4 separate regions of the Homo sapiens genome follow, and all the other regions are linked to region 1. Evidence: fine-mapped expression QTL. A gene starts in region 1. Each other region holds a variant in brackets. All regions are shown on one strand. Distances are between the middles of the regions. Region 1 holds the start of MGAM (maltase-glucoamylase). Region 2 has its middle 5.2 kb from the start of TAS2R3. Region 3 overlaps MGAM (maltase-glucoamylase). Region 4 overlaps MGAM (maltase-glucoamylase).

What was found. PIP is the estimated chance that this variant, and not a neighbour inherited with it, causes the effect.
Region 2: its variant is the best candidate, but not a certain one, in a credible set for the expression of MGAM in fetal neocortex (Walker 2019, PIP 0.76).
Region 3: its variant is the best candidate, but not a certain one, in a credible set for the expression of MGAM in blood mononuclear cells (TOPMed, PIP 0.89).
Region 4: its variant is the best candidate, but not a certain one, in a credible set for the expression of MGAM in whole blood (TOPMed, PIP 0.73).

What each region holds. Positions count from the first base shown.
Region 1 is chr7:141,992,944-141,998,123 of GRCh38, reverse strand. It overlaps MGAM (maltase-glucoamylase), which reads right to left and starts at 2,245. Exons shown (of 71, transcript NM_001365693.1): 1 at 2,194-2,245. RefSeq lists an enhancer at 2,046-2,547.
Region 2 is chr7:141,756,309-141,761,488 of GRCh38, reverse strand. No RefSeq gene overlaps it. Among named protein-coding and RNA genes, the nearest start is that of TAS2R3, 5.2 kb to the left of the region's middle. The variant G/T (reference allele first, on the strand shown) is at 2,868.
Region 3 is chr7:142,095,480-142,099,479 of GRCh38, reverse strand. It overlaps MGAM (maltase-glucoamylase), which reads right to left. Exons shown (of 71, transcript NM_001365693.1): 64 at 3,767-3,915; 65 at 3,065-3,149; 66 at 1,831-1,887. Among named protein-coding and RNA genes, the nearest start is that of MGAM2, 14 kb to the left of the region's middle. The variant G/A (reference allele first, on the strand shown) is at 2,391.
Region 4 is chr7:142,102,527-142,107,706 of GRCh38, reverse strand. MGAM (maltase-glucoamylase) reads right to left here. Exons shown (of 71, transcript NM_001365693.1): 69 at 5,028-5,077; 70 at 4,268-4,438; 71 at 960-1,893. The coding sequence ends at 1,816. Among named protein-coding and RNA genes, the nearest start is that of MGAM2, 6.6 kb to the left of the region's middle. The variant A/G (reference allele first, on the strand shown) is at 3,609.

The DNA.
Region 1 (5,180 bases):
AGTAGACAAACCACATGGGGGCCCAAATTATTAAAATGGCTATCTAAATTAATTTGGAAAAACTGGATATTTGTCCTCTTTCCGGCATTATAGCCAGCGTTTGATGTGTATATGGAGGTCTAAGCCATTCTTTTAAAATCCTTTGCTAACACAAGACATGAGATCTAGTGGAAAAGAGGATTCATTGTGGATAGATAGACTAAGAACAACTTGCAAAGAGGACCCCAGTGAGCCATAGCTATTCATCAAAAATGCTGGGCGATATTAGTAGGTTGGGCCATCCTTTCCCAGCTGCTTGGTGAATGGGAAGGGATAAGGTAGCTAATGAATGGCTTTTTTCTTCCAAGTCTGGTCACACCCAAGGTGAGAGATTTAAGAGTCAGCTCTGACCCTAGCCAGCTGTATGACCTTGGAAAAATCCACTTAACCCCTCTGGGTCTCAGTTTCCCCATCTGAACTGCAAAAGGATCATCTCTAGGAGACAGCTAACTCCTCCTTGAGCCCAGCAACAGGGTGTGCAAAGGCTTATATTTCTCATCACATTCCACAGCTGCCACCTGAACAAATTTTAAATGGAAAATTTCTTTTCTAGTTCCATTCCATGCTTATAGAACAATTTTTATAGTAATTTTATTAGCTCATTAAAATGTATTTGTGAGGGAATGCCTGATAATAAAAAATAATCATTGGCATCTTGTGAGAGTGTGACTGAAATAGCAACAAGCTGTCTTAAATTTAGTGTCCCACTTCATTTGGTCCCTGGTAGCACAGGGACCTACCAGCACAACAAACCAAAGACCCCCTCCATCTCACCCCCTCTTTGCACACCTACAGACATACACTTACTGTCCCACACCAGGACACAGACTGTAGACAGTTTGGACATTGGGAGGTCTTCCTCGCCCAGCAAAGCCACTGATCAGATCCTGCATGAAGAACCTAGTGGTATCCTTTTTCAGGGAGACCCATGGGGATTAGTCTCAATTTCTCTCTCTTTCCCCAAGAGTAACTCTCCCTTCCCACCTCTGTAACCAGTCAGAAAAGAAATGCCTGCGTGTGTCTAGCTAGACTGGCAACTAGTAAGGATCCAACTTTTTTTAAGTTTTATTTTAAGTTTTATTTTAAGTTTATTTTAAGTATTTTATTTTAAGTTTTTAAGTTTAAGGGCCAACAACAATTTATCACCTTCTCCTCTTCCCACGAGCACTCCCATTCTACTCCACACATGACTGCCAGGACAGATACCCTACCTTTCTCTTTATGACCTCCTCCCACATTCCACAGGAAACCTCTCCTACCCACCAATGCACACCAACTCATAAATGCATCCCAATATTTTACACACATCCTCAGACTATCCCCTAAAATTATTCTGTATTTAATCAACAGAGGCACCAAACCCATAAGCATAGTGATATATTTCTCAATTTTCTGATTATAATTGGTTCTTCAGTTACATTTTCTCAATCACAACTCCAAATCCTTTCAGAGGGAAAATGCTCTAATCTCACTCCCAAATTCTAACTCCTTTTATTCATTTCTCTCACTTCATTTCCAGAATCTGAAAGAATTTCTGCCTGCTACCTCAACCTAAGTATTAAATAATTCATCACACCTCACACAGAAACACACACAAACACACAGGTTTCACTACAATCAGGCTTATAGATCCAGCCTTAGTTCAGAAAAATATACACACACTAAGAAAAAAAGATAAATGAGAATTTTGTTCCATGTGTATGCATGTGCATAATTTTTGATTTATTATTGGTGTTGTTTATCTTTGTGTTTAACAAATTAACAAGGGCTTTTTTTTTTTTTTTGAGACGGAGTATCGCTCTACGACCCAGGCTGGAGTGCAGTGGCGTGATCTCGGCTCACTGCAAGCTCTACCTCCCAGGTTCACGCCATTCTCCTGCCTTAGCCTCTCCGAGTAGCTGGGACTACAGGCGCCCGCCACCATGCCCGGCTAATTTTTTGTATTTTTTTAGTAGAGATGGGGTTTCACCATGGTCTCGATCTCCTGATCTCGTGATCCACCCGCCTCGGCCTCCCAAAGTGCTGGGATTACAAGTGTGAGCCACTGCACCCGGCCAACAAGGGCATTTTGACTAAAAGAGATCAACTCAAATTCACACACACTTGTAGACACACATCTGTAACCGTAAAAGAATACAAGGTTCACAAACATACCTCATTACCTCTTGCAGCCGCTCCCTCTCTGTCTGAAGGATGGCTTAGCAATAAAAGCAGAGGAGCACAGTCCACCAAAGCAACCAAAGATCTGGTAACTATTTACCGACCTATCAAGAAAATGTTAATGGCTTTCAAATGCAAATGAATGGCCAGCTTTTATTTCCAGGATCAGAATTTTTAGTTAATTAGTAATCGTGGTCTTGCTCTAAGAAGGACATCCTTAAGACTTTTGGAAGGAAAAGCCAGCTCCCATGACCCACTCCATCCCCTCCAGGCACTGAATGTTTAATCGGTGGTGAGGACACCCTGTATGTCTGGTAAGAGAACACAGACACAATTTGTAGATGATAAAGAGCAAAAAATAAATGACCCCAGTATTCCAAAAGAGCCCTGGTCTCTTGCACTGACTCCGAATCTCTCAGGAACTCACTGACGTTTAGTAGCACAATCTGATGATTGTGATGGAAGGAAGTTGTTTTAAAAATGTTTTAAAAATAGTTTTCTTCTTTCTTCTTTAAGGTGTCCTTAAGCTTGTTTGCAGTATGGAAATCCTTTAACAGTCTGGTGACTCTTGAACTGCCTTTGCAGAACTATAAATAAGAGAAATCTAACAAGACTGACTCCATCTTGCTTCTAACCTCCCAGGCTAAATTATGTTTTCTAGGGGATTTTTTTTTTTTTTGGTTGGCTTTTTGCTTATTCTAGTACAAAGGCCAAGAAACCTATGAGAGGGATTTAGTTTATAGTTAAACTTGGAGTCAAGGGAAAATGATCCCCCTCCTTGCCTGGAGCTTAAAGGCGCATTCATAAGGCAAGGTTGGAATTATGGTAGGGGCTTAGACTTTGCTAAAGAATAGGCATAAACAATGTCCTGCCATGGCTTAGTTTGTTTTTCTATAAGTTGCTTACTGCCCCAGTCACACAACCAGTGTCACAAAATTCATAACTTCCCCAACTACCAAAGATAACATCACTGTATTGGTCTGTTTTCACACTTCTATAAAGACATGCCTGAGACTGGGTAATTTATAAAGAAAAGAGGTTTCGTTGACTCAGTTCCGCAAGGGTGGGAAGGCCTCAGGAAACAATCATGGTGGAAGGGGAAGCAGGGACTTCTTAACATGGCGGCAGGCCAGAGAGAGTGAGCAAGAGCAGGGAAAACTGCTTTGCAAAACCATCAGATCTCATGAGAACTCACCCACTATCATGAGAACAGCATAGGGGGATCCGCCCCCATGATCCAATCACATCCCACCTGGTCCCTCCCTTGACACATGGGGATTATGGGGATTACAATTCAAGATAAGATTTGGGTTCTGACACAAAGCCTAACCATATCAATCACTATTGTGAAACCTAAATAACTGGTCTTTTAGATATTTGTTAGCATTTCAGTAGACCAACAGACACCACCTAGTCTTGAGGCCAACACACACACCCCTCCTGGGAACTGACTCAGTTGCACAAAGACAGTTTTAGGTGCTCCTGTGATTTCATTCCCTGCCAATCAATTATACAAGTTCCCCAGCCCCATGCCCACCAAAGTACCCTTTACAAACCTTAGCCTTTGAATCCTGAGGGAGAGGGGATTGAGAAGTTTTTGCCTGCTCTTGTTTGGCCAACACTGTGATTATTCAACTCTTTATTTACTGCAATGCCTGCTGTTCTCATTGATCTTTTTGGAGGGCAGTGGGCAAGAAGAACTTATGGAGCTGAGACATGCTTATAAACCCCTCTTAGAATTAATTCTTAGGCCAGGTGCAGTGGCTCACGCCTGTAATCCCAGCACTTTGGGAGGCTGAGGTGGACAGATCACCTGAGGCCAGGAGTTCAAGACCAGCCTGGCCAACATGGTGAAACCGCGTCTCTACTAAAAGTACGAAAATTAGCCGGGCATGGCGGTGCGTGCCTGTAATCCCAGCTACTCATGAGGCTGCGGCAAGAGAATCACTTGAACCCAGGAGGCGGAGGTTGTAGTGAGCTGAGATACAAAGAAAATCAATTACATTGAAACACAGTTACTATAATATTTTTTAAATTATAGTTTGTGCCTCTTTAATGACATACTAACAATAAAGCGATATGTCTAATAGCGATTGCAATTTCAAAAACATGATAAGCGTAAACAATATCTTGAGATTGTTTTAAATATATGATGTGAAAGTAACTGTGACCTCTCTTGAAACCAAATTCATAGGTACTACTAACACCACTGTAGTTTGCAGCCTAACTCTAAATTTCAATTAGAATTTAGCAAAGAAAAGATATGTAAATATTTTCCCCCTCCAAGTTCACAGGCTTTCAGAATTATATCTACAAACCCCAGGTTAAGAACTTTGCTCTGTTACTAAGTGGACCTTCCTCCAAGTGGGGCAGAGTTCCCCGCTCTGTGATACTCCAAGAGTTATCTGTGAACCTGTGGTTGCCAGCTTCCAGAAAAATAAGCACAGAAATTGAAGGTAAGTGTTGAGAGACTTGCATTACAATTTGACAGAATCATTTCATGTCATTGATCTTGATAATTAAAAAATGGAGCTTGTATCTGTATATGCTTTTTTAAAATTTATTTTTCAAGTAATTTAGTTTTAATTTTACAAAAGCCACAGTCTGTGATATATTGGACAATTTTAAAACAATTGCTGTTTTACCACACATAGTTTAAAAAGTCCTGCTCAGCTACTGCTATTTCTAGGCATTTGTCTTTATGGGCTAGTGAAAATTCAGAAAAAAATCTGGGCCAAGAGACCTAAATTTATAAACCATGTATATCATCTGGAAAATACAAACAAAAATCACTATCTCTTATCACAGTCGTTTCACAGTAGACATAGACAGATAATCAAAATTGAATCAATTTATCTCTTTGAAAGTTTACTTCCTTATCCTTACTTTTCTGATTTCATGAACCATCAGTGAACAACAACCACCGTGGTAACACTGACTTACCGTGTTTCTTTGGCATCATAGAATCAAAGAATTTACAG
Region 2 (5,180 bases), 240 kb after region 1:
ACCTCAGAACCACCTCTGAATTGCATTTCCTCTTAGCAATAGTGGTTGTGTCACCACTAGATCTTGGGCAGAAGCTATAAGTGATTCTCTGCAGTATCTCTAACACAGAGCCTAGCACAGGGTCCAGCACAAAATTGGTACACAATTACTATTTGTCAAATCAACTTGAATCCCAAACGCCCCTCAAGTCACCTCTCATCCCCATTCTTGCTAACCTTTCTAGGCTTATTAGAGCTTCCTAACTGCCTCTAGGCTTTCTCCTTCTAGCCCTTCACTCTGTCTTTGTTGTTCTCCTAACGCACAATTCTGATAAGATGTCCTTGTTTTCAAACCTTCTATTGCTCCCCATTGCCAAAGTTCTCTGAAAGCTTTCAAGGCCCTTTACTATCTAGCCCCAACCCACTTTCCATGCCTCACCTTTGTTTCATAAACTTTTGTTTCTGGATCTTTGCTCATGCTGTTTCCTCTGCTGAAAGCTCACCTATCCATTCTCTTCTAAGCTACTCCTCACACCCTATCACAGTTAGCTATAAAAGTTTCTGCTTATCCTCCCTAACCCCTCATAAGCTTAATTGTGAATTCCTTCAGTGCAGGAATCCTGTTATATACATCCCTACATTCAGGTCCTATATGGGTGCATGATATATAGAAGATGCCCAACTGAACCTTATATTTAAGAGAAGGAGAGCATAATGGTTTGGAAAATGTGCAGCCTGACCATGTGGTAGAAAAGAAAAACCAACTTTCTGAGGAGGAATTCAAGCTGGCTGAAGAAATTTGCATAAGTAACAAGGAGCCGAATGTTAATAGTCAAGACAATGGGGAAAATGTCTCTAGGGCATGTCAAAGACCTTCTTGGCAGCCCCTCCTATCACAGGCCCAGAGGTCTTGGAGAGAAAAATGGTTTCCTGGGCCAGACCCAGGGCCCAACTGCTCTGTGCAACCTCGGGACTTGGTTCCATGCATCCCAGTGGATCCAGCACCAGCCACGGCTAAAAGGAGCCCTCAAGGAGAACTTCTGCTATGGCAGTGTGGAAGGAAAATGTGGAGTTGTAGCCCCTGCACAGGGTCCCCACTGGGGCATTGCCTAGTGGAGCTGTGAGAAGGGGGCACCCATCCTCCAGACCCCAGAAAGGTAGATACACTGACAGCTTGCACCAAGTGCCTAGAAATGCTGCAGGCATTCAACACCAGCCCATGAAAGTGGACACAGGGGCTGTACCTTGCTGAGCCACAGGAACGCAGGGGCAGCTGCCCAAGACCAAGATTGTTGGAGCCCACCTCTTGCATCAGCATGCCCTGGGGTGGCCTACATGTGAGACGTGGAATCAAAGGAGATGATTTCAGAGCTTTAAGATTTAACGACTGCTCTGCCGGGTTTTCAGACCTGCATGAGGCCTGTAGCCCCTTTATTTTGGTCAATTTCTCCCATTTGGACTGGAAACATTTGCCCAATGCCTGTACCCTCATGGTATCTTAGAAGTAACTAATTTTATTTTACAGGCTCATAGGTGGAAGGGACTTGGCTTGTCTTAGATGAGACTTCGGACTTGGACTTTTGAGTTAATGCTGGAATGAGTTAAGACTTTGGGGGACTGTTGAGAAGGTATGATTGGTTTTTAAATGTGAAAAGGACATGAGATTTGGGAGGGGCTGGGGCAGGATGATATGGTTTGGTTATGTCCCCACCCAAATCTCATCTCAAATTGTAATCCCCACGTGTCAAGGTAGGGACCTGGTAGGTGACTGGATCATGGGGGTGGTTTCCCCTGTGCTGTTGTCCTGATAGTGAGGGAATTCTCCCCAGATCTGATGGTTTTAAAAGTAGCAGTTTCCCCTGTGCCCTCTCTCTCCTGCTGCCTTGTGAAGAAGGTGCCTGCTTCCCCTTCACCTTTTGCCACGACCATAAATTTCCTGAAGCCTCCCCAGCCATGCGGAACTGTGAGTTAATTAAACCTCTCGTTTATAAATTACCCAGTCTCACGTAGTATCTTCATAGCAGTGTGAAAACAGACAAATACAGTTGGTTGCGGGAATCTGTGGATACGGAGGGCCAGTGGAGAATGAATGCAAGTGGAGGCAGGCATTGGGCAGAAAGCAAAATGCAAACTTCACATACCTGAGTTCAACCTCCAGGTGTGCATCCTGGAAGATGCATGACTTTGACAAGTTATTTAACCTCTCCCAGTTTTGGGTTTCCTCACCTGTAAAATGGGATTATTGTACCTTCTTCTTAGGATAATGGCTAAATGAGACAATGATAAAAAGTACTTAGCTTAGCTCGGTACATAGTAACCAGAAGAGAAATGACAGTCATTAATATGATTATTGTTACATCTTTAAGAGATTTCCCTGTAATTCATTAACCTTGGACTTGCCTCTCATTTTCCACAACGATTTTCTTGCTGTTACTCCCACAAATCTTCACAGAATATTATGCAAACTCTAACAGAAAAATAGCAAGGTGATCCTGCCCTCATTTTCTTTTCAAGTCCCACCTAACCGAATGACAAACATTTATCAATCTCCATGTCACTGTGTGAGGCTGAGTTAGATTGGGGAAAAAGGGTGGTTTTAGTAAAAGAAAACCCTGCCTTCAAGAATTGCCATGATCTCATTAGGGAACAAAGGGAAAACAGCACTAATTTCTCCTAACTTGGCTGCAAAAGTTAGGCTGTAATCCACATTGCAATGACAAGTAATTCCTAAAGAAATGTATACTCTATTGCCAAAACTGCCACAGAAATATATCTTTGGTGTTTTTGGATCATCTTTGAATAAAATGTCCAGTGTGTTTTAAGAAATGATTGATTCTTTGAGAACTGTAAAGGCAGCAAACAGTAGATCTCATATAGGTTGGTTTTTTT[G/T]TTTGTTTGTTCGTTTTGTTTTTGAGATGGAGTCTGGCTCTGCCGCCCAGGCTGGAGTACAGTGGTGTGATCTCGGCTCACTGCAAGCTCCGCCTCCTGGGTTCATGCCATTCTCCCACCTCAGCCTCCCCAGTAGCTGGGACTACAGGCGCCCACCACCACACCCAGCTAATTTTTTGTATTTTCAGTAGAGACGGGGTTTCACCATGTTAGCCAGGATGGTCTCGATCTCCCGACCTCGTGATCCACCCGCCTTGGCCTCCCAAAGTGCTGGGATTACAGGCATGAGCCACTGCGCCTGGCTAGGTTGGTATTCAAAGTAAATCATTTTGGGCTGTGTACACGTATTAACAGATGAATGAATTATAAAAGCATGAGATGCTAAAATACAGATAGTGGGGGAAAATATATAAAAGATTTTCTCATTCATATCCAGTAAAGTGGTACTCACTAAAAGTGAATGAGTAAATTAGTCTGGCTCAGAAATAATGGAAAGGTTTTTTTCCCCAGATAAAAAGTTTTATTTTTTTATTATAAAAGTAATATATGTTCAATGCTAAAATATATATTTAAAAAACTGTAAAGAAACAAGGAAAATCACGCATAATCACCCTCTCTAGAGATAATAACATCCTCATGTTTCTCCCTCCAGACATTAAGCCTATCTTCATTACAACTTCTTTTTCAAAAATGGGATACCCCAGACATACTGTTTGAAACTTTTTCTCCCATTCTTCTAGGTATACTATTCATCTTACCATTTAACAGGAAACTCCAAATCGAGGTCACAGTGCAGTTTTCTGAGGTTTATTCCCTGACACTATCACATCAAAAAGGGAAATGCAAGACCCAAAACTTGGGTTAGAAGACCCCTAGTCTTTTACTGCTATTTACTGCTATCATATTTCCAAATGCGCTCTTCCTAGACCAGCTAGGGAGCAGGAGAAAGTTTCTCAGCAGATAGGGCTTCCCAGGGGTAGGCAAAGTTTCCCTAGCAAGTCTGACTGACTTGAGGCGAGAATCATTCTGCTAGAATCATACGCATGCTGAAGACTGCATGCTACACACCTAAGTCTGATAAAGCACCACTGCTTCAGCTCCACAGCCTTTCAGAGGCATGGAGAGAAGAGGCAACCTCCAGGGGAGAGTTTAAAGCAGAGCCCCTCGGCTCACAATGATCCAGCACAGCATCCTCTTCCACCCCTGCATTCAGGGCTGAGAAACTGCTCCAGGTTGGTAATTAAGCTCTTCTGTTCACCATGTCATTTTCCCAAAGCAGAGATTTATTACCCTGCTTAAACAGGACTGTTAATCTGCATAATTTCTCACAACACTTAAGGAGTATAAAAGCTGCTGTGCTGATAGAAGAAAGAGTTGCTAAAAAGATAAATTTTATATACTGCCCAATTTTGCTTAAGGAATGTGGCATGAAGGAATAAAGACTACATCACCAGGCAGTTTTAATGTGTGAACTTAAGAGAGCAGAGTTAATATGCTGATTAACTGTCCCAGCTGCAGGAAAAAGAAAGATGGCTGGCAGGAGAAAACAGCAATGAATTTTCTACTGTTCCTGAGCAAGGAGAGGATAAAGCTAAAAAATTCCATCTTTCCTCAACCAAAATGCATTGTAGGTATAAAAAAAGCTACTCAAGTGTGCAGAAAATACCTTAAAACAAAAAAGTCACAGACCTATAACATAGCTTGGGAATTCTGAACCTAATAAAGTCCAATATGACCTAAGCTACAGTTAGCACTGTACTCGTACTCTCAGGCAGAGAGGACAGAACATGTAGGCTGGGAAGCAAATATATAGGCTGGGTCAGAGGCCAAACTGGAGACAGAGTGGCCTAGACAGTACGAGAGACTTCTACCATTTGAACAAAACAACCTGCACAGTGGCAGCCAACCTCTGGGATACAGCAGCAAACTGGCAGGCAGACCTCGGGAGGGCTGATGTAAACTTTAAAGAGCAAAAGATGCACTGAAAAACTGAGTTACTATTTCATCTTTATTGGCAAATTATTAGTATTCTAAAATTTCCTGAATCTTGTAATAAAAAGTAAGATTACATGATGTACATAATGATTCATGTGGAAAAATAAAAGGAAAATGTAGGACCTAAGGCTCTAAGGGAGGCACTGACAGAGGTTGTTAAGAGGATCCTCTTCTACCTTCCCCAAGAGTTCTGAAGAAGACTCTAAAAGGATAGATAAGAGGGGCAGAGAAAGATAGAATAGAACCACAGCTCCTGTGGCATCACCTGGAGATGAACGATTTCATCTCTAGTTATATTTCAGGTCCTTATTGCTGGTA
Region 3 (4,000 bases), 100 kb before region 1:
ACCCATTCTGCATTCACCCAGTGCTGCAAGAAATCTTGCAAGGCTGCTATAATATCTTGTTAGGGTCTCTTGCCTTTGCTTCCACTGTACAAACTACATTTGCCTGATGTGTGACAGGAAGAGGTGCTACTCTCTCACCTGTATCAGAACCTAAGGGACCATGCTTCCATCCTACATGTTCTCAACTAGAGCAGGGCTTTTCAGTCTCAGCACTATTGAGATTTGGGGCCAGACAATTCTCTGGCGATGGGGCTATCCTGTGCCTTTTGATATTTAGCAGAATCCTCGGATGTCAGCCGCATCACCTCCTCACCCCCACTCTGTTGTGACAACCAAAAATATCTCCAGGCATTGCCAAATGTCCCCTGGTAGGCAAAATCCTCTCATTTCAGAGCTGCTACTTTACAGGTAAGAAGCAGTTATTGTTGACAACAAGCGAACAAATATGCATGGCTGTGTTCCAATAAAACTTTATTTGCAAATCAGCTAACAACCAGATTTGGCTGTGGGCCATAGTTTTTGCCAGCTTGTGCTCTAGAATGAGTAATAGTTACCCAAACTTGGGAAGATTAATTAAGGTGACACTTCTTCATTAATATTAACTATGAAATTCATCTTCATTTTAATTAAACATCAAAATTTCATCTTTTTCTAAATAGCTTGCTCCATGATTTCTTTTGTCTTTTCCTCTTCAACCAAAGACATCTTCTGTTAGTGAATGGGAGACTCAACATGCACACTCAGGACAAAGGCCAGTCTCACGTAAAGAAAGCTGGCCACCTCTTCCTGGGAAACGCCTGGCTGGGACACACATAGCAGAGCCTTAACATGTTACCACCCTAAGGGCAGATCCAGACTAGCAGCAGGAAGAGGAGTCTGGGGCTGTGGAGAGGACTTGGGCTCCAATGGACTGAGAAGAGAAGGAACAAAATGCACATCCTTCTCCAGTTTTCACCTAATCTCACTGCAATCCCCTTGGATGAAAGGGGCCAGCACATGCTCTGCTTCCTGTATCCCTGCTTGTACCCCTTTGCTGTATTTCCAGCCCTCAACGATGTTCTCCTCAGAAAGTCAGAAGAGGCCCCATTAGAGACCAAGGAAATGCCTTCTTTGATTCTTCCCCAAGAATCAGGGTCTGACTTGTCAGGGTCCCAGCAAGAGCCCACCACCCCAGAGCTGCCCGGGAAGACCCTGGCTTCCCAGATAAGTCTTTGGGGAACATAATAGCACAGAAACTATGCGGCAAGGAGCTCTTCATTGCTTCCTCATTTCTAAATGCACTTGCACTGCTTAGACTCACAAGGGTTGGGTCCCATACCTCTGTGTGTGTTTTGCACATTGCCTAATCACTTGCTTACCTTAGGTAATTATGTGCAGTGCCCTTCTTTGAGCATCTATGCTATGGAAGGAGATATTTAATAAAAAGACAGAGACAAAAAGGCCTCTATGCTTACAAACTTACAGCAGGTAAAGATATAAACATTAAAAACAAAAACTATAGTTTGCAACACAATCTCAAAAGCATCTGCCTTTACAAAACATTGTAAATAGCAGTGATATAAGAAAATATTAAAAATTAACACAAAGAGAACACCCACGAAAAACCTGAGTGAGATGCTTTATGTGTCATTTCACAACAGTTCTATGAGGGAAGTGGTCTTACTCCACTTGGAGGTGAGAAAACCGAGGTTACAAGGGTTAAAGTGGCTTCTCTAAGACCACACAGCAGGTGGGTTACAGAGCCAGCATTTGACCTAAGGTCTATCAGATCTAAAGCCTTTGTACTCTCTACCATTTTCCCGTGTTGTATAAACATTCAGAAAAACTTACCGTGTAGTAATCATACCAGCGGGCTCTAGGGAAATATGCAGTGACATTTCTGGCATTCTAAAATGAAACATAAACAAGGTGTGGCAGTGGCACCATTTTCCAGGACAGAGAAACCAAAATACTTAGGAAAGAGGTTAAATAATTGTGATGGCCTTGGGCCCACTTGCCTCATGTCCCAGGAGGTCACCTATTGAGGAAACCTTCCATCCCTTTTCCTTTTTCAAACAGGAGAGATCTGTCTACCCCAAAACAAGTGGCTTTCATAAAGCACTTTGGTACCCAGGACTTCGGGAAAAAAAAAAATTCACTATTTGCTTATAGAAATAGGCTTACGCCATTCCCTCTTAAAGAGACAAACAACTGAGGTTGTGTCTGGGGCAGAAAAAAATTCTGTGGGTACCATAAGATTTGCGGGCTGGACACGGTGGCTCACGTCTGTCATCTCAGCACTTTGGGAGGCCGAGTCAGGCGGATCATGAGGTCAGGAGATCAAGACCATCCTGACTAACATGGTGGAATGCTGTTTCTACTAAAAATAAAAAAAAAAATTTAAATTGGCC[G/A]GGCCTGGTGGCACGTGCCTGTAGTCCTAGCTACTCGGCAGGTTGAGGCAGGAGAATCACTTGAACCTGGGAGGCAGAGGTTGCACTGAGCTGACATAGCACCACTGCACTCCAGCCTGGATGACAGAGTGAGACTCTGTCTCAAAAAAAAAAAAAAAAAGATTTTGGGAAGGTGCAATTAACTGGTATTTTAATCAGAAGCCTAATCAACAATAGAAGTAAAGAAATGGCTTTTACTGCTGGGAGGAGCTCCTGCAGAGGAAGGGAAGGGTTAGCCAGCAGCAATACAAGTACACACACATTGCCAAGCAATCCTTCTGAAAAGTTGTAATAGTGCTAGAGGACTGTTATGAATTCTTTACAATACTGCCCCCATCTGATCTTCTATTCCTTATTTTAGTTAACGAAGAAACGATTGTGTCATTGAATATACCATGAGGTGTTTTCTTCTTGATCATCCTATGAACCAGAATTGTTAGGCTCATTTTAAAGATGAAGGAGCTGAGGCCAAGAACACCTAAGTGATGGACTTCAGCTCAGAAAGAGAGGAAGAGACACAGGTAGAATAAGAAACCATGTCTTAGGACCCCCACCAGCTCAGGCCTCTTCTCCTCGTCCTTTTCCCCAAGCCTCACAGCTGGGATCCTCCCCTCATCGGAGGCCTCCATACTCACACGCTCCAGGACAGGGCTGACCAGGAAGGCTGGGCCCAGCAGGAACTGACTGTCTATGTCCCATGTCACCTGGTCTGACACAAACCTGGAAAGGGAAATGAAGGTGCCCAACAGAGCCCAACAGAGCCCCAGCCCGACACTCTGAAGAAGCTCCTCAAGTTCAGATCCAAGTCGGAAATACAGCTGCCCCTGAGCCATCCTTGCCTTTTTCCTAGGCCTAGCTTCATCAGGAGCACCCAGCCTCTGCTTTCCCCATGGGATGTGCCTCAAACTTCAGAAATGCTGGGATGTAGATGTATTCTCTCTTGTAAAATACTTGCCCCATTTCTCAACCATGGCAAACTTCAAATGCAAGGATGGCCCTTTTCCCTCAAATCTCTTCCTGAAATCCTTCTCCTGTGATCTGGCTACATATAACCAAACTGCTACAAAAGATAGATAGGCCTTTGCACAGCCAAATTAGAAAGAAATTATTCTATGCTATACTGCATCATTTCAGTTTTGCTCATTCAATCAATAACCTTTTATTAATGACCTAAGGCATGTATAGCACTGTGCTAAAGAGAGTAATAAAGTATGGTCTGCACCTGAAGAGCTCATGTCAAAAGGCAATCATGTCTTTAATTTGGAAGAATTCAACTGTCACCATATAGAATGCAATAAGTCATCCATTAGGCATTGGGATCCCTGCTGGACACTCACTCATGGAGCAGAGGCCGCACAACAGTGACGCCCTCCGTGTGGGCCTTATGCATCAAGGTATACAGATATGGCAACAGGGTGTATCTGGTCTGCAGGACAGTTCTGGAAATATTCACAAAAGCAACATCCCAGGACACAGGGTCTTGTCTCTAAAGGAGAAAGAGAACAGTGTTGGGAGCTTGCCCTGGAATTTCTAGGGGATTTAAGAAGGTCACTGAAAGCATACTCCAATTG
Region 4 (5,180 bases), 110 kb before region 1:
ATAAGTTTTCTTTGAAATAGCATGCATTTTGCTTGATGCATTTAAAAACAATGTTGTGAGGAAGAATTCCGTAGGTTTCACTAGGCTGTCAGTGGGGTCCCTGACACTTCGTGTGCTCCAAAACCCCACTGGCCTCACTAGGGCCTTAGCCATCAGAATTATATAGTCAGAATGCCTCTCCTTAAGCATTCTGTGGCAGCCAGAGCCAAATTCCACCAACATATCCTTGATGGTAACATTAAATATTTTTTAAATATCAAGTAAATAACGTTTTCATCTTTGTGGCCTTCCTGAGTTTGTTAGAGGAAAGCTGACAAGTTTCCCACCTTTTTGATCAAAGGATTCCCATGGCTGCTTTTCCATATTTCACCAGTTTCCTAGTTAGCTCAGGCCCTCATCCAAATGCCCCGTATTGTGATAATTAGATGATTTAACAATATTGTTTGTCTCTAGCCTTATGCAGGTGCTGACACATGAGTGTGCAGGGAGAATGAATGGCTTCCTGGTTATAAGAAAAGAAGAAAACACAGAGAAGTAGGTTCATTCATTCCACACACATTCATTTTCAACTCATTTTCAGGTAACATCAAAAGTTAATATTCCTGTTGAACATTAATATATAATTTCCTTATCTCACATTTTAACCCTATAGAATTTTAAGCAAGAAGGTTGCAACTCCTATTTTTACTGGAGTTGGTATTTTCCTAAATATAGCAACTGCTATGATGATTAAAATAGTAATCAATAGACCCTTCCACAAACCCACATCTTATAAAAGACTCCTTGCAGAGATGTAAGAAAAAGGATAATTATAAAGGTTATCATCCTATTGGTGGATTTGGCTGTAGGTTCTGTGATGCCGAAGAGAACCAGAAAGACAAATTCATAAGAGTTTGCTAAACAAGAACCTTAACCCCAAACAGAGATTACTCATGGTCAAAATAGCACAAAATTCAAAATCACTTGCAAATTCACTTGTTTTATTTTTATCTGGCATATAAATTGCATATTTTTATGTGAAATGTGGTTGTATACATTAGAAATAAGATTTACACATTTCAAAGCACACTACTGCAAAAATAAATTATTTTTAACCTCCAAACTCTCTTTTGAGCTTTGCCTGCTCAGATCTCAATCTCACCAGTAGCCCTTTATGCTAAGGATTTCTCAAGACCCTCTTCTTCAAGTGAGTTGACTCTTCCTTTTTCCTCCCCATGAGGCTGCTGACAATTTTACATTATGTTCTTACTTAGGATCACTTTTACTATCATCTTCTGTTTCATCTGATCTTTCCTTGTGTTTGCCTTTTCTTTGCTTATCATGCTCCCCCCACCTATAACCAATTAGGTATATTATTCCTCCCACCGCCTATAACCAACTAGCAGATGTTCTTTCTGGATACTTTCTTGAGATGCTGATTAGCTTCAAGACCTGGAACTGTCACAGAAAGCTTTCTCTTGTGTATTTAACAAAAGAATGGGGTCCATTCTATGATTACAAACGTGGACATACACACACTTCATCATGGACCCAGTTCATCTTCAGTAAATGTCATATGATGAACAGTCACTACCATACTAACCACACAGAGACATTAAGGTAATGCATAGATTTTCCACACCTCCCTAACTGCCTATCCCACAGGGCTAAGGTTTAACCTTTAGGGTTCACACAAAAAACATATAACAAAATTAACAGAAATATTTCACCAATAGTGGGTATGAACAAATTAGCAACACACAATAATTTTTATGAGTATGAAGTATAAGTAGTTTCAAAGTCATTCATAGTTAGTTAGAATCTTGCTGTAAAAATTCACAGAGTGCTTATCCACGTCAATGAAGTAAAATTATGTAGGCTGATGTTTCTGTCAGTCACATCGATGCTTAATACCTGTTAGGAACCAAAGGAAAAGAATTGGGCATCCGGTGTTGAAATTTCCTGCATGCAAATAAATCAGGTGCAAGTATCCAGTCCAAATAACCCCCTAATACTTCTACATTGTATTGTCTAGTTAAAAGACTGCCTTCAAAGTTTCAGATGAGAAGGGTGTTTTCTAATTTTTTAGAGTACAAAGATTATTCAGTGGTAGAGATGGGCCTTTAAATAATTCAATATGGGCCGGGTGCGGTGGCTCACGCCGGTAATCCCAACACTCCGGGAGGCCCAGGTGGGTGGATCATTTGAGGTCAGGAGTTTGAGACCAGCCTGGCCAACATGGTGAAACCCCAGCTCTAATAAAAATACAAAAATTAGCCAGGCGTGGTGGCAGGTGCCTGTAATCCCAGCTACTAGGGAGGCTAAGCCAGGAGAATCACTTGAACTTGGGAGGCGGAGACTGCAGTGAGCTAAGATTGCACCAGTGTACTTCAGCCTAGGCAACAGAGTGAGACTCAGTCAAAAAAAAAAAAAATGTTCAATATGCAACCGCTGAAGAGAAACAACTGCACAAACTGGAGAGAATGCCCTCTTTTCCATTCTACTGAGGTGTTGATTTTCCTTGGCACCATCCTTCTGTTTCCTCCTTCTCCTATTCCACTATAGCACCCCAGTGTTTGCCCAGCAAGAGTCCACTATTCCTGCTTCTTCCTAGGCAGATGCTGTCAAGAAGCTTTCACTGCATGTGCCCTCATCAGCTTGCATGTCTGTCCCTGAGCTGGTCAGCAACAGGATTGGGCAAAGTCCTTTATGGTATAGTTGGGGAAGTTGTTGACAAGAAAACCACAAGTATGAGGAAATAACTGTAAAGAATGCAAAACTGAAAGAAAACTTTTGTTTCAGGCTTAATCATCAGGAAGGATTATGAAAGAAAAAAGTTCAGGAAAAAAAATAATAAGTAAGCACACAAGGAAGAAAGTTTCATTTACCATCGGGATGATAAGTGTCAGGACCACTACACAGCATTAATCCCAAGGTACAGATTTTTCACATATTTAACATTCATCTGACAAGAGCGTGTCTTGTAATCGACAACCATAGAATTACTGTGAGCCAAGCAGCACTCATGGCATAATTGTTATTGTCTGTGCCTGTGTAAGCTTCATTGCTATTACTGTGTTATGAATGGATGGGCTGAAAACATTTAAGGATTATTACAGGAAGGAATATTTAGTAAGATCAAGAAAGCACTAGGATGAAAATGTATATAAAGTGTGTTAGTGGCTCAGGAAAAAAACTTCATAGACACTAGTGGAAGAATTTTTATAAAATGCTGAATCACCAACACCTTTTGCAGTACAGAGGAAATATCTTAACCAATTTGTAACACATATTTTTCTTCTAAATAATAATAAATACAATAAACTAAATAATAAAACAGTTTAATATGAATTTAAATAGTACAATTTAAATACGATACAAGTTGGTTAAGCTATTTCTAGTGCTTCTTCACATTTAGGGTCTACCTCTTTTAAATTACGTTGAGGCAGAATCATCAATGTATCTCCACTCAACATTTTCCTCCATATTATCACTTACAATATTGAAATATATAGGTAAAACTTTATGGCTAAAGAAGTTTCAAAAACTTTCTATAAGTTTATTATAAAAATCTGAGGCTGGGCACAGTGGCTCACGCCTGTAATCTCAGCACTTTGGGAGGCCAAGGC[A/G]GGCGGATCACAGGGTCAGGAGATCGAGACCATCCTGGCTAACACAGTGAAAACCTGTCTCTACTAAAAATACAAAAAATTAGCCGGGCATAGTGGCAGACGCCTGCAGTCACAGCTACTTGGGAGGCAGAAGAATGGCATGAACCTGGGAGGCAGAGCTTGCAGTGAGCTGAGATCACATGCCACTGCACTCCAGCCTGGGCAACAGAGTGAGACTCCGTCTCAAAAAAAAAAAAAAAATTGAGTGATAAGGAAGCATTCTATCATAGTTTTGTCATCCTTTTTTCTTTCTTTGTGGCACATGAAATAATGAAGCAATTTTCACTGATGGTATCATATTTGATAAAATATGATAGTTCCAACCTGTTTGGGAAGTTGATCTCTGAGGCAGAGGTGAGGGAGTCAAGACAAAGTTTTACATAGGTTTGCAGACAAGAAGACAAACATGGAAAGTAAGAATCCAGGCCATGGATTCCAAATGATGATAAACCATGATTTTTCATTCATCTCCACGTGGTCCATTCCTAACACATGGAAAACTCAGGGATTCCCGGAGGGCCTGGCAGGAGAGGGCATCATTTGGAAGGGAAGCAGTCAGGCACTGCACTAGGCATATTAAGGGTGGAGAATACCATTCGCACTTTTTGCTGGTCACAAACCTGTGTCGTGGGGTCATTGTTGAAGGAGGGTGTTATGACCATGCCACTCACAGAGATGCTGACACTGGTAACGGGGACACTGCCCACTCCCCAGATTTCAATGTAGCCCAGTTTCAAAGGATTTGTACCAGTGATGTAATTGTTGAAAATTATATGGCTTTGCATCGTATTCTGTTGAATTGGAGATAAAAGAAAAATATAATAGCAGAATTAGTTCAAATTTTTCTAACCTCTTTTTAGGCACAAATGTAGGTCATAAAGTAAGACAACTTCAGAGTCACCATCTTGTAACTTTGGATCATGGAAATCATGATTTCATCACTCTATGGCCTATTGCCAACTCCCATCCACTTTGCATTGACAAGCAGCTACAGGGTCTTTCGCACTGCCCTGAACTCTACAGGAGACAAAAAGTCTCAGCTGTTAAGATACTTATATTCTACAGGTGGAGGAATCCCAAAATGTGCAGACCATTCCAAGGCAACTCAGGAACAAGGGCTAGATAACAGAAACTGCCCGTCCACCTGTAACATGGTAAACTAGAATAATGATCATTACTGATGAGATGTGGATAGGTTTAATTGCAGAAAGCCTCCTGGGAGCATAGTAAATTTCCACCGGAAGTCTAGAGAAGTAGAAGAATGTGAATTAGCAAGATGAGCAATGAAGAAATTCTAGGTGGTATTTTATGCCCTTACGATATTCAGCACCCTCCTAAGCCAGTGGAACCCTATTCTCACTTCATATCAATCACACTCACCTGGCTGGCAGAAAAGCTGGCCAAGTAATAGAGTCCTTTCCCATAGGTATCTGCAAACAAAAAACAAGATAAACATGGCCTGGACCTGTGCTGTAGAACTCTATGCTATAGAATATATAAATGCTGTTCTAATTGCCTACTTGTCTTGTTTGA